Linked DNA regions of Homo sapiens. The protein of the gene in region 2 purifies or fractionates together with the protein of the main gene of each other region. This does not show direct contact. Each region holds a gene or a part of one and is shown on either strand. Other genes may lie near its edges.

Evidence for each region.
Region 1: the proteins of ZNF223 (region 2) and HECTD1 purify together in Homo sapiens (affinity purification with mass spectrometry; 2 studies listed by BioGRID and IntAct, with this or other methods). This does not show direct contact.
Region 3: the proteins of ZNF223 (region 2) and TRIM26 purify together in Homo sapiens (affinity purification with mass spectrometry; 2 studies listed by BioGRID and IntAct, with this or other methods). This does not show direct contact.

What each region holds. Positions count from the first base shown.
Region 1 is NC_000014.9:31,110,139-31,113,794, forward strand, and holds part of HECTD1 (E3 ubiquitin-protein ligase HECTD1), read right to left. Parts: intron 3,347-3,656; coding exon 3,139-3,346; intron 3,052-3,138; coding exon 2,966-3,051; intron 2,406-2,965; coding exon 2,278-2,405; intron 1-2,277. UniProt on the Homo sapiens protein: E3 ubiquitin-protein ligase which accepts ubiquitin from an E2 ubiquitin-conjugating enzyme in the form of a thioester and then directly transfers the ubiquitin to targeted substrates.
Region 2 is NC_000019.10:44,054,917-44,058,572, reverse strand, and holds part of ZNF223 (zinc finger protein 223), read right to left. Parts: intron 3,465-3,656; 5' UTR 3,397-3,464; coding exon 3,382-3,396; intron 1-3,381. UniProt on the Homo sapiens protein: May be involved in transcriptional regulation.
Region 3 is NC_000006.12:30,183,891-30,186,772, forward strand, and holds the end of TRIM26 (tripartite motif-containing protein 26), read right to left. Parts: intron 2,669-2,882; coding exon 1,986-2,668; 3' UTR 565-1,985; downstream 1-564.

The DNA.
Region 1 (3,656 bases), on a different chromosome or scaffold from region 2:
TTACAGGTGTGTGCCACCACGCCCAGCTAATTTTTGTATTTTTAGTAGAGATGGGGGTTCTGCCATGTTGCCCAGGCTGGTCTTGAATTTCTGGCCTTAACTGATCCACCCGCCTCAGCCTCCCAAAGTGCTATGATTACAGGCATGAGCCGCCACACCCGGCCACATTTTCTTTTTTTTAATAACAATCCATTTATGGTGGGAGGAAGAACCGACAATTAGGAATAAGAAGCTGAAGGTTCTACTCTCATGTGTGCTACTATTTTCTCATGATCTTAGGCAAATCAGCTAAGTACGTGCAGAATCAATTTCCTCATTTATAAAACAAATTATAATCAATGCCAGTTATCACAACATGCCTATAGTTCTATGTATATAAATGCTTTGTAAATGGCATTAAATGGTACAAAAATGTAACTATCAGGGAAGAAAACAAACAGTTTAAATTATAACTTTTTTTTTACAACTATTTTGGAAGAGTACTTAAGGTAAACAATCATTCAACAAAATATTTATTGAGCACCTACAATGAGTCTTGCTCTGTTGCCCAGGCTGGAGTGCAGTGGTGCAATCTCAGCTCACTGCAACCTCTGCCTCCCGGGTTCAAGCAAATTCTTATGCCTCAGCCTCCTAAAAAGCTGGAATTACGCCCAGCTAATTTTTGTGTTTTTTTGTAGAGATGGGGTTTTGCCACATTGGCCAGGCTGGTCTCGAACTCCTGGCCTCGAGTGATGTGTCTGCCTTGGCCTCCCAAAGTGCTGGAATTATAGGCATGGGCCACCGTGCCCAGCCTGAAAACAGAAACTTTTTAAATGCTTTTTTTTTTTTGGTAAATTACTTCTTCCATGATTAGAGGGACTATCTTCAAAGTAGTACAAATATTTCGTAAATAATATCTGACCATTTTCTAACCAATTGAGTAATTTGTTGCACAATAAGCCATCTCACATCTTTCAGCAAGAAATACATTAAATTTGAATAGTAAAGACATTACACAATTAGGCTTAGGACAAAATTAAAATTTGCCTGAAGTATTTCTTTGGGGGAGAGGACACCACACTTCTACTCAAGGAAGAGAAACATTTTTACAGTCCAGAGGTCTTTTATTTTTATCTTTATTTTTTATTTTTTTGAGATGGAGTCTCGCTCTGTCGCCCAGGCTGGAGTGCAGTGGCACAATCTCTACTCACTGCAAGCTCCACTTCCCAGGTTCACGCCATTCTCCTGCCTCAGCCTCCCAAGTAGCTGAGACTACAGGTGCCCACCACCACACACAGCTAACTTTTTGTATTTTTAGTAGAGATGGGGTTTCACCACGTTAGCCAGGATGGTCTCGATCTCCTAACCTCATGATCTGCCCGCCTCGGCCTCCCAAAGTGCTGGGATTACAGGTGTGAGCCACCGCGCCTGGCTATTTTTTTTAAACACTATTATGCATGAATTCACAGAGAAGAGGTTCCAGCAGCTCAGACTTCTTTCCCTTGGTTTTCACACAGCGCGCTTCTCTGGGTGGAACAGGCTGGCACTTCAGCTAAATGCAGGTACCTTTCTCTTTGGCTTCCTTCTTTTTCTGATCATTTTCCTTCATGTGTTTCAGGAAGCTATCTCGGCTCTTAGAGTGCTTAATGTGCTCAATATGCACATTAATTCTCTTGGTAAGAATCTTGCCCTTGTTTGTTTACAACAATGCCATTAGCCACGCGTGGTGGCGTGCACCTGTAATCCCAGCCACTCAGTGGGGCTGAGGCAGGAGAATCGCTTGAACCTGGGAGGCGGAGGTTGCAGTGAGCCGAGATCACACCACTGCACTCCTGCCTGGGCGACAGAGCGAGACTCTGTCTCAAAAAAACAAAAACAAAAACAAAAACAAAAAAACAGCAATGCCAACAGCCTGCTGGGTAACACTGTAGACTCTTCCAGTTTAGCCACGGTAACACTTGTGGGGCATTCCTTTTTGAACAGTACCCATTCCCTTAATGTCTACAGTATCACCTCTCTTTTAGATTTGCATATACGTGGCCAAAGGAACAACTCCATGTTTTCTAAAAGACCTAGAAAACATCTATCGGGTATCTCTCCTCCTTTCCTTTGGATTAGTCATTTTGGCGAATTACTAGAAGATTGGTAGTTCAGGCCAAAAGGCAATGCTGACTATTCTTTATAAGAATACAAGATAATATATTCCCTCTATCAGTCTTGACAGTATAGTTGTACATTTTCAACTTACATAACATAAAAGCATACTTATTCTAAAAACATAAAAAAAAGGCTTCTTACCTTGAGGCGCCAAATGCTGTACATGTGAAATAAAGCTGTCTAGTTTCAAATGGTATTAGAAAAGGACATTTGCTGGTTAATTGTTCACACCAGTCTGGCAGAGCCCCACTTGCCAGTGCCAATGGTTCCTGCGAATTAACAAATAATAATGTCTTAGTGCTATAAGGCATTCATGCATGCATGCATTCATTCATTCGTTCATTTTTTTTTTTGAGACAGAGTCTCACTCTGTTGCCCAGGCTGGTGTGCAGTGGTACGATCTCGGCTCACTGCAGCCTCTGCCTCCTGGGTTCAAGCGATTCTCCTGCCCTAGCCACCCAAGTAGCTGGGATTATAGGCATGTGCCACCGTGCCCAGCTAATTTTTGTATTTTTAGTAGAGACTGGGTTTCGCCATATTGGCCAGGCTGGTCTCGAACTCCTAGCCTCTAACGATACACCCACCTTGGCCCCCAAAATGCTGGAATTACAGGCATGAGCCACCACACCTGACCCTATAAGGCAATTATTAAAAATTACCAAGTCAATTATAAACCTGTAATTAGGAAATAAATGCAAAGGACCATATAGCTCAAATTACCAATCAGAGGGAAGGGAAAGATGGTGAGAGGTAGAAAAGAAAGTAAAGGGAATATTAGGAAAAGTCCAACAGTAATAGAATGAAGAGTTCAGCTGTCTGATTTTATTACCTCAATCTGCTGTAATATTTTTGTTGTAATTTTTTTGCTAGTGAATTCATCTGGTGGAAAAGTAAACTGAGGCTGTTCATCACCATCTATAAAATTAATTAATAAAATTAATAAAAATATAAACTGACTTGCTTTAAAACTGCTATAGAAATGAAACAAGGCTTCTTACAGACCTTCCTGGGATATTCTTGAATAAGGGTCACTTGCAACTATATATAGAATACGCAGAAGCTGAAGGACATCTTCTACTCCACAAGAGTTCTGTCCATTGCCTGCTTTGGCCTGAGGTTGTTCTTTTGTTAAATTAAGAATATCACTACTTTGAAGAGTAGAAATGGCCCCCTGGTTTAACCCAGACTTTGTTCCATGCTCACAAAAATCCTATAGAAACAATTAGAAAAACTGGCCATTAATCACATTTTCAAGAAAAACAGTGTATCATTGTATCAATACCACTATGAAAGGGTTGGAATTTTTTAAAGTGCCTTCTTTTTAAATAAAAACATAACACAAGACATAAATCAAGGCATTCTAAACCATTAAAATTCCCAAATAAAATATAACCACTCTAAGCCATGGTCAAAGTCTGCATTCAGATCCAATGCTACCAGCCATATTTGAAATTTTAGAATTTGTGCATTAACAGTGTTAATTCAACCTCATTTTTAAAATTATGTCTCAATGAACTGCT
Region 2 (3,656 bases):
AGAAGCAGGTCCACTGGCTTCAGACACTGGGGCCACCTGAATGATTCTTCTTTGGTATCTTCAGCAGCTTCTTATTTTGATAACTGGGACCTGGGCAGGATTACTACTTCAGGAAGGTCTGGCTGTGCTGCTTGTGGTCATGCTCCTCTGGGGTCCACGGAATGTATTCCAGCTATAATTCCATGAAGTTGGCAGAGATTGTGTCAGTCAAGGTGTTACACTGATCTAACAAGATCAGGGGAGGCCAGGGGAGGTCGATGGACATATGAAATGGACCAGTTTGCTAAGAGGGATATCTGGGTCAGGGGATGGACTGCAGGACAGTTGGGGTGCAGACCCCACCCAGCTCTCTCCCCTTTATTGCTTGTAGTTCTCAAGAATAACTGTAGATTATTCTAAGAATGCAATATTATGGGGAGGAACTGCCTTTGACAGTCTGGGCTTTGTTCCTCTCTCACCTGGAAGGAAGATGACCTTCAAGTTTTTCTCCATGAGTCATGGCACCCTGAAGTATATAAATGGGGGCAGGTTACCTTCTGGGGTGCCTCAGCTCTGGTGCAAGTGGGGCACATACAGTCAAGATTCCATCTGCTCCAGGTAGCTTTCTTGAGCCCTGGATGGCCAGCTCATACTGGACCCTAGGCTTCTGGGCTCGCCTGCTGCCAATCTGTAGTAATAAATCTGCTTCATGCAATCTGTTGCGTGTGAATGTGTTCTGTCCCACAGGACTCACACGAGTTGGTAATCAGTGCACAGTGAACCTGCTCCATGGTACCCTGAGACAGTTATGCAGTGTGTCTTCTGTACTCGCAAGGCACAAACCACATATGCTTATTGCAGCATTTAGTGTCCTGATCAGAAGCCAGAATGCCTCAGTGCACATTCTGAGAGTCTGCCCATTTCTAACCATGTGACCTCAGACATGTTTTCCTACAAGGCTTGTTCCCTCTCTGAATAATAGTTCTTACATGACAAGAGTTTTTTCAAGAATTAAGAAAAGAAATATACGGTATTTTGAAAAGTCTACGGCACAGACTGTTTAATGAACATTAGCTGGTATTACTTATTACTGTTATTACCATTATCTATTTCAGGGTTCCATAGTATTCCAGGGAACTGATGATCTATTTTTAGCTACACTAAATAATAAATATTTAATTTCACATATTTTCCATTATCAGTCCGGCCAAGATGATATGGTAAGTAGTAAGATGTAAGAACATCTGACTCTGTCTCATTTAAAATAATTTCATATGAAAATTAAAATGTGAAAAATAAGCACATTTAATATTATCATTATATAATTGCATACTTTCTTCTCACTTTTTTCCCTACCTCTCTAATCATTCAACAGAATACAAGTACCCTAATTCTCCTTATGATAGCCAAGAGCAGTTTATAAATATTCCCATGGTTTTGTAATCTGATTAGGAAGAACAATTCATTCTATCATTCTCACTTATTATTATAAATGAGTATCACCACTTTTCAAGATTATTGGCGATCTCTATTTCTTCTTTTACAATTGCCTTTTAGTATTCTTTGTTCCAATCTGTTTGAACTTTTTTCTTTATCCTTTTAGAAGATTCTTATTCTGGATTTATTCTTCCTTAACTATCCAAGGGGTAAATATTTTTGCCCCAGGTTGTCATTTTTTCTGGTAACAATGTGTGAGGCGGGCCGGGCACGGTGGTTCACGCTTGTAATCCCAGCACTTTGGGAGGCCGAGGCAGGCAGATCATGAGGTCAGATCGAGACCATCCTGGCTAACACGGTGAAACCCCGTCTCTACTAAAAACACACAAAAAAATTAGCCGGGTGTGTGGTGGCGGGCGCCTGTAGTCCCAGCTACTCGGGAGGCTGAGGCAGGAGAACGGCGTAAACCCGGGAGGCAGAGCTGGCAGTGAGCTGAGATCGCAACACTGTACTCCAGCCTAGGCAACAGAGAGAGACTCTATCTCAAAAAAAAAAAAAAAAAAAAAAAAAATGGTGAGGCATTTTATGCCATAAGGAGGAATTTAGGGATTTTTTTTTTTTTTTTGAGACAGAGTCTCACTCTGTCACTCAGGCTGGAGTGCAGTGGCGCGATCTCGGCTCACTGCAAGCTCCGCCTCCTGGGTTCACGCCATTCTCCTGCCTCAGCCTGCCGAGTAGCTGGGACTACAGGCGCCCGCACCACGCCCGGCTAATTTTTTTTTTTTTTTTTTTTTTGTATTTTTAGTACAGACGGGGTTTCACCATATTAGCCAGGATGGTCTCTATCTCCTGACCTAGTGATCCACCTGCCTCAGCCTCCGAAAAAGTGCTGGGATTACAGGTGTGAGCCACCGCGCCCAGCCAAAGAAAAAATGTGTGAGGTATCTTGTGCCATAAGGAGGAATTTGGAGATAAGAACAGCTGTGGTAATCACTGTCCTTGGGTACTTGGAACAATGAGTACACCTGAGTAGGTGCCAGGTCTGGAAAAGAAGAGGTCACACCAACGCAGGACAGGGAGAAGCAGCGCCACCTATGGATGTCATCACTCAAGGGAGCACTCCAGACATCCACACAACAGGTCACCAGACCCTCAGTGGAGAATTTTTCTTTCTTCTCGTCTCTCTCTTTCACTTGAGCAGAATGGCTAACATTCCTGTTCCTTGATTGCCTCTGATTTTGAGCAGGTTTCTCATATTTCATGAGTTTAGGAGAAGAGATCAGGAACCTCCTCATTCTGCTGCTTTGAGAAGTAAATGAGTGACAGTACACAAGTGACTGGCCAATCTTCAGTATTACTAGACTTTTTTTGTTTTGTTTTCTTTTTTGAGACAGAGTTTCACTCTTGTTGCCCAGGCTGGAGTGCAATGGCCCAATCTCAGCTCACTGCAACCTCCGCCTCCCGGTTTGAAGTGATTCTCGTGCTTCAGCCTACCGAGTAGCTGGGATTACAGGCATGTACCACCATGCCCAGTTAATTTTGTATTTTTAGTAGAGATGGGGTTTCTCCATGTTGGTCAGACTGGTCTCGAACTCCTGACCTCAGGTGATCCGCCTGCCTCAGCCTCCCAAAGTGCTGGGATTACCAGTGTGAGCCACTGCACCCAGCCCAGTATTACTAGCCATTTTAAATGAAGGCTTTCTGGCTGGGTGCGGTGGCTCACGCCTATAATCCCAGCACTTTGGGAGGCCGAGGCGGGCAGATCACTTGAGGTCAGAAGTTCGATACAAGCCTGGCCAACATGATGAAACCCCATCTCCACTAATACTACAAAAATTAGCCAGGTGACAAGAGATCCTCAAAGTCCTGCTGTTCTCCTTGAGTCTTCCCAGGGCAGAGAAAAACACACAACAATCTGAGTAGTGAGATGGAATTTTAACAGTAAGAGAGGCAAGTCCTACTTACCTTGGACATGGTCATTTTTCCTCCTACTTTAGGGAATTTGCAGAGTCCTGAATGACACAGTTCCAGGGAAAGCAGAATTGTGCCTGGAAAGTGCCATGAAGACAGAAAAAGAGACATGAAAGGGTGGCCAGGGATGTCACCCACCAACAAGGACTCATATTGTCAATTAGCACATGAACGCTCACAGCAGCATTATTCATACTAACCCCAAATTGCACACAACCAAAAAGCTCTCCTACAGGTAAAGGGACAGAAAAATTGTGGCATATTCATAC
Region 3 (2,882 bases), on a different chromosome or scaffold from region 2:
CCCGGGAGGCAGAGCTTGCAGTGAGCCGAGATGGCGCCACTGCACTCCAAACTGGGAGACAGAGTGAGACTCCATCTCAAAAAAAAAAAAAAAAAAAAAAAAAAAAAAAAAAAAAAAAAAAAAAATCAGAAAGGACAAGAAAAACAGTTGACTGTGTTAGGATGCAAGGCTGAATCTCTGCACATTCTATTTCCTCTGAGGCAGTGCTTATTTTCCAAGGAAGAATTTTTGGGTGTGCTATACTGGAGGTCTCCCTTCTCAGGGAGAGTCATCACTTGCTCCAAAACGCTGGACCTCAGCTCAAGGGCACCACTGCAGGAGGAATAAAAAGGTGGAGCCACGCAACAACTCGTCTGTGTTCCGCAGTAGGCTCTTTTTGAGGGACTTCCAGAAATGACAGCATGTGTGCAGAGAACAGAAAGCAAAGTTACACTGTTACAGAAGGCACAGAAGGAAAACCTTCGGCTACTGCTATCAGTGGAATTTCTCTGTAGCCAGACTGAGGTCTGGTGGCATTTGAGATATAATATAGATATAGACCTACAAATACAGATCTCCAGGCTGTTCATTCAACAAGTCTTTATTGAGCACCTACTCTGTGCCCAGCACTGCACTAGGTGCCATGAGAATACAAGAGTAGTATAAGATGTTATCCGCCCTCCAGGAGCTTACAAAACTAGAGGCAGAAATAAGATGTACATGTGACTCAGGCAGCATGTGACACACACAAAGTGGGCAGCTCTGAGACAATGGTGGTCAAGTGACCACTGAGGCCCAGAGCCGTTGGAACAGTCTCTTAGAACAGGGTGGAGGACTTAAAACTTGGATGAACAGGGGCTGGCAGAGCACTTGGAATGGGTAAGGACAAGACTGGGAGATCAATTTGGCTGGAGCAGGGGAGCTTGTGTTAAACTGTGATGATGAGGGGCACCTGGACAGAGGTTGGGTCCGTGGGCAATGAGAAGACATGTTACTCCCTCTCTTGACATGAAGACCTGGTGGGCTTGTGGCCTCCTGCTGCCTTCCTTTCCCTGTCTTCCCATCTCCACTCTCTCCTAGGAAAGTGGAACCTGGATGCTGGTAGGGCCAGAGACAGAGGCTTAACACCCTGCTGGGGAACCCGGTCAGAACTCCCGAGGCAGGAGAGGTTCTGCTCCACTGGATGTTTGTCTTGGTGTTTTTGGATGTGCTGATCAAGAGCAAGATGTTCTGGATTCTTAAAACTCCCCTCACAAGGACCAATCTAGAGATAATTTATTGATCAGTGATCACAGCTTGTACCCCAAAGCCGTGTATGTCTGGATCCTTCCCTAAGACCACAGATAGCTCCAGGGAGTCCCACCTCCTTGGCTATGGAAATATGCTCAGCCCTGGTTTCAGAGAAGCCTGGACTCCACTCTGGACCCCATGAGATGATATGCGCTGGTACTCCAGGCTTTAAATGGCCTGGGAAGCCTCAGTGGATTTTGTTTATTTTCAGCATTGCCATGTATGCTTAACTCTGAGTTGGGGTGGGGTAGGTCTGTTTAAAATGCCAGGGAAGGTGGGCAGCAGAGTGGATTTGTGCAAGAAGGAACCTGGGGGGTTTAAGGACAGCAAAATGATCTTAGGCGTAATTGACTGGTTTTTCTGAGGTCTTGCCACACTGGGCAAGAAAATGCTGCATCGGGCCCTTATTCCAGAGAGTGCAGAGCTGGGGCCAAGGTCGTGGTCAAAAAGGAAAGGAGCCCTCATGGACTCCAGGGTCAGAAGTTCCCTCGGGAAACCAGCAGGAGGTGGGAAAAGAGCCCCATTAGGGCAGTAGATGGAGCAACAGCACTGAGTGAGATTTCAGGGGGCCACAGCAATGGGGAGGTGGCTACCAGTGGATATGGGGTCCCCTGCTCCAGGTGCTTAGGCCAGGCATCCCGTCCCCCCATTGAGAGTCCTGGAATTCCAAAGAAGTGAAGCATCTGAGGGTTGGGGCTGGGGGCAGATGTCAGGGCTCAGGGTCTTAGCAGGAGGCGTGTTCCTGGCCACTTGAGCCACAGGAAGGGGACCAGGCGCCGGGTGAAGGTGGCAGTGAAGGTGTAGATGAGTTCCTGTGACTCTGCGTTGGTGAAAGTCACGGTGCCCCCTTCATAATCCAGGGCGATGCCCACTCTCCGGGGCCGCAGTGCTGGGAAAAGCTCAGCCTCGGGGCTGGTGTTGGCCCAGATGCCGGAGGAGGAGAGGCGCAGCGCCCACACGCCATCCTCTGGCCGCAGGGAGAGGTCTCCCTTCCTCTTCACAGAGTCTCTAGCCACCCCCACCATGCAGCTTTCCAGAACTTCCTCCTCTTCCTCCTCCTCTTCTTCCTCTTCATCGCCCAACGATTCCTCATCTTCGTCCGTTTCCCAGTCGTCATATCCATCCCCATAGCCGGCCTCCTCTTCCTCCTCCTCCTCTTCTCCCTCTTCCTCCTCATCCCCCTCTTCTTCATCCTCAGACCAGCCCTCCCTCTCCACTTCCACTTCCCAGTAGACCTTGCCCCAGGTGAAGCCCTTGCTGCCTAGCACCCCAGGCTCACAGTCAAACTGCTGGGGGTGCAGGTAGGCACTCTTGTACAGGCTGGTGTAGGTCACGCACTTCCAGTCCTCTGACAGCTGCAGGTACCCACTGGCCGACTGTGGGTCCAGGGTGACGCTCACTGTGGGGACAAGGGAAAAAAAAAAAAACAGCATCACTGTTTTGTTTTGTTTTTTAAGTCAGAGGGAATAAAATTTATTTTGGCAGATAGCGTTAAACAAAATTAAAGTTGCATACATTAGTAATATAACTCAACATCCTTAATTTGGTATAAGTGTGACACATTTTCTGGCTTTGTATTCTGCTAAATCACCATAACTAAACTGCTTTATAAA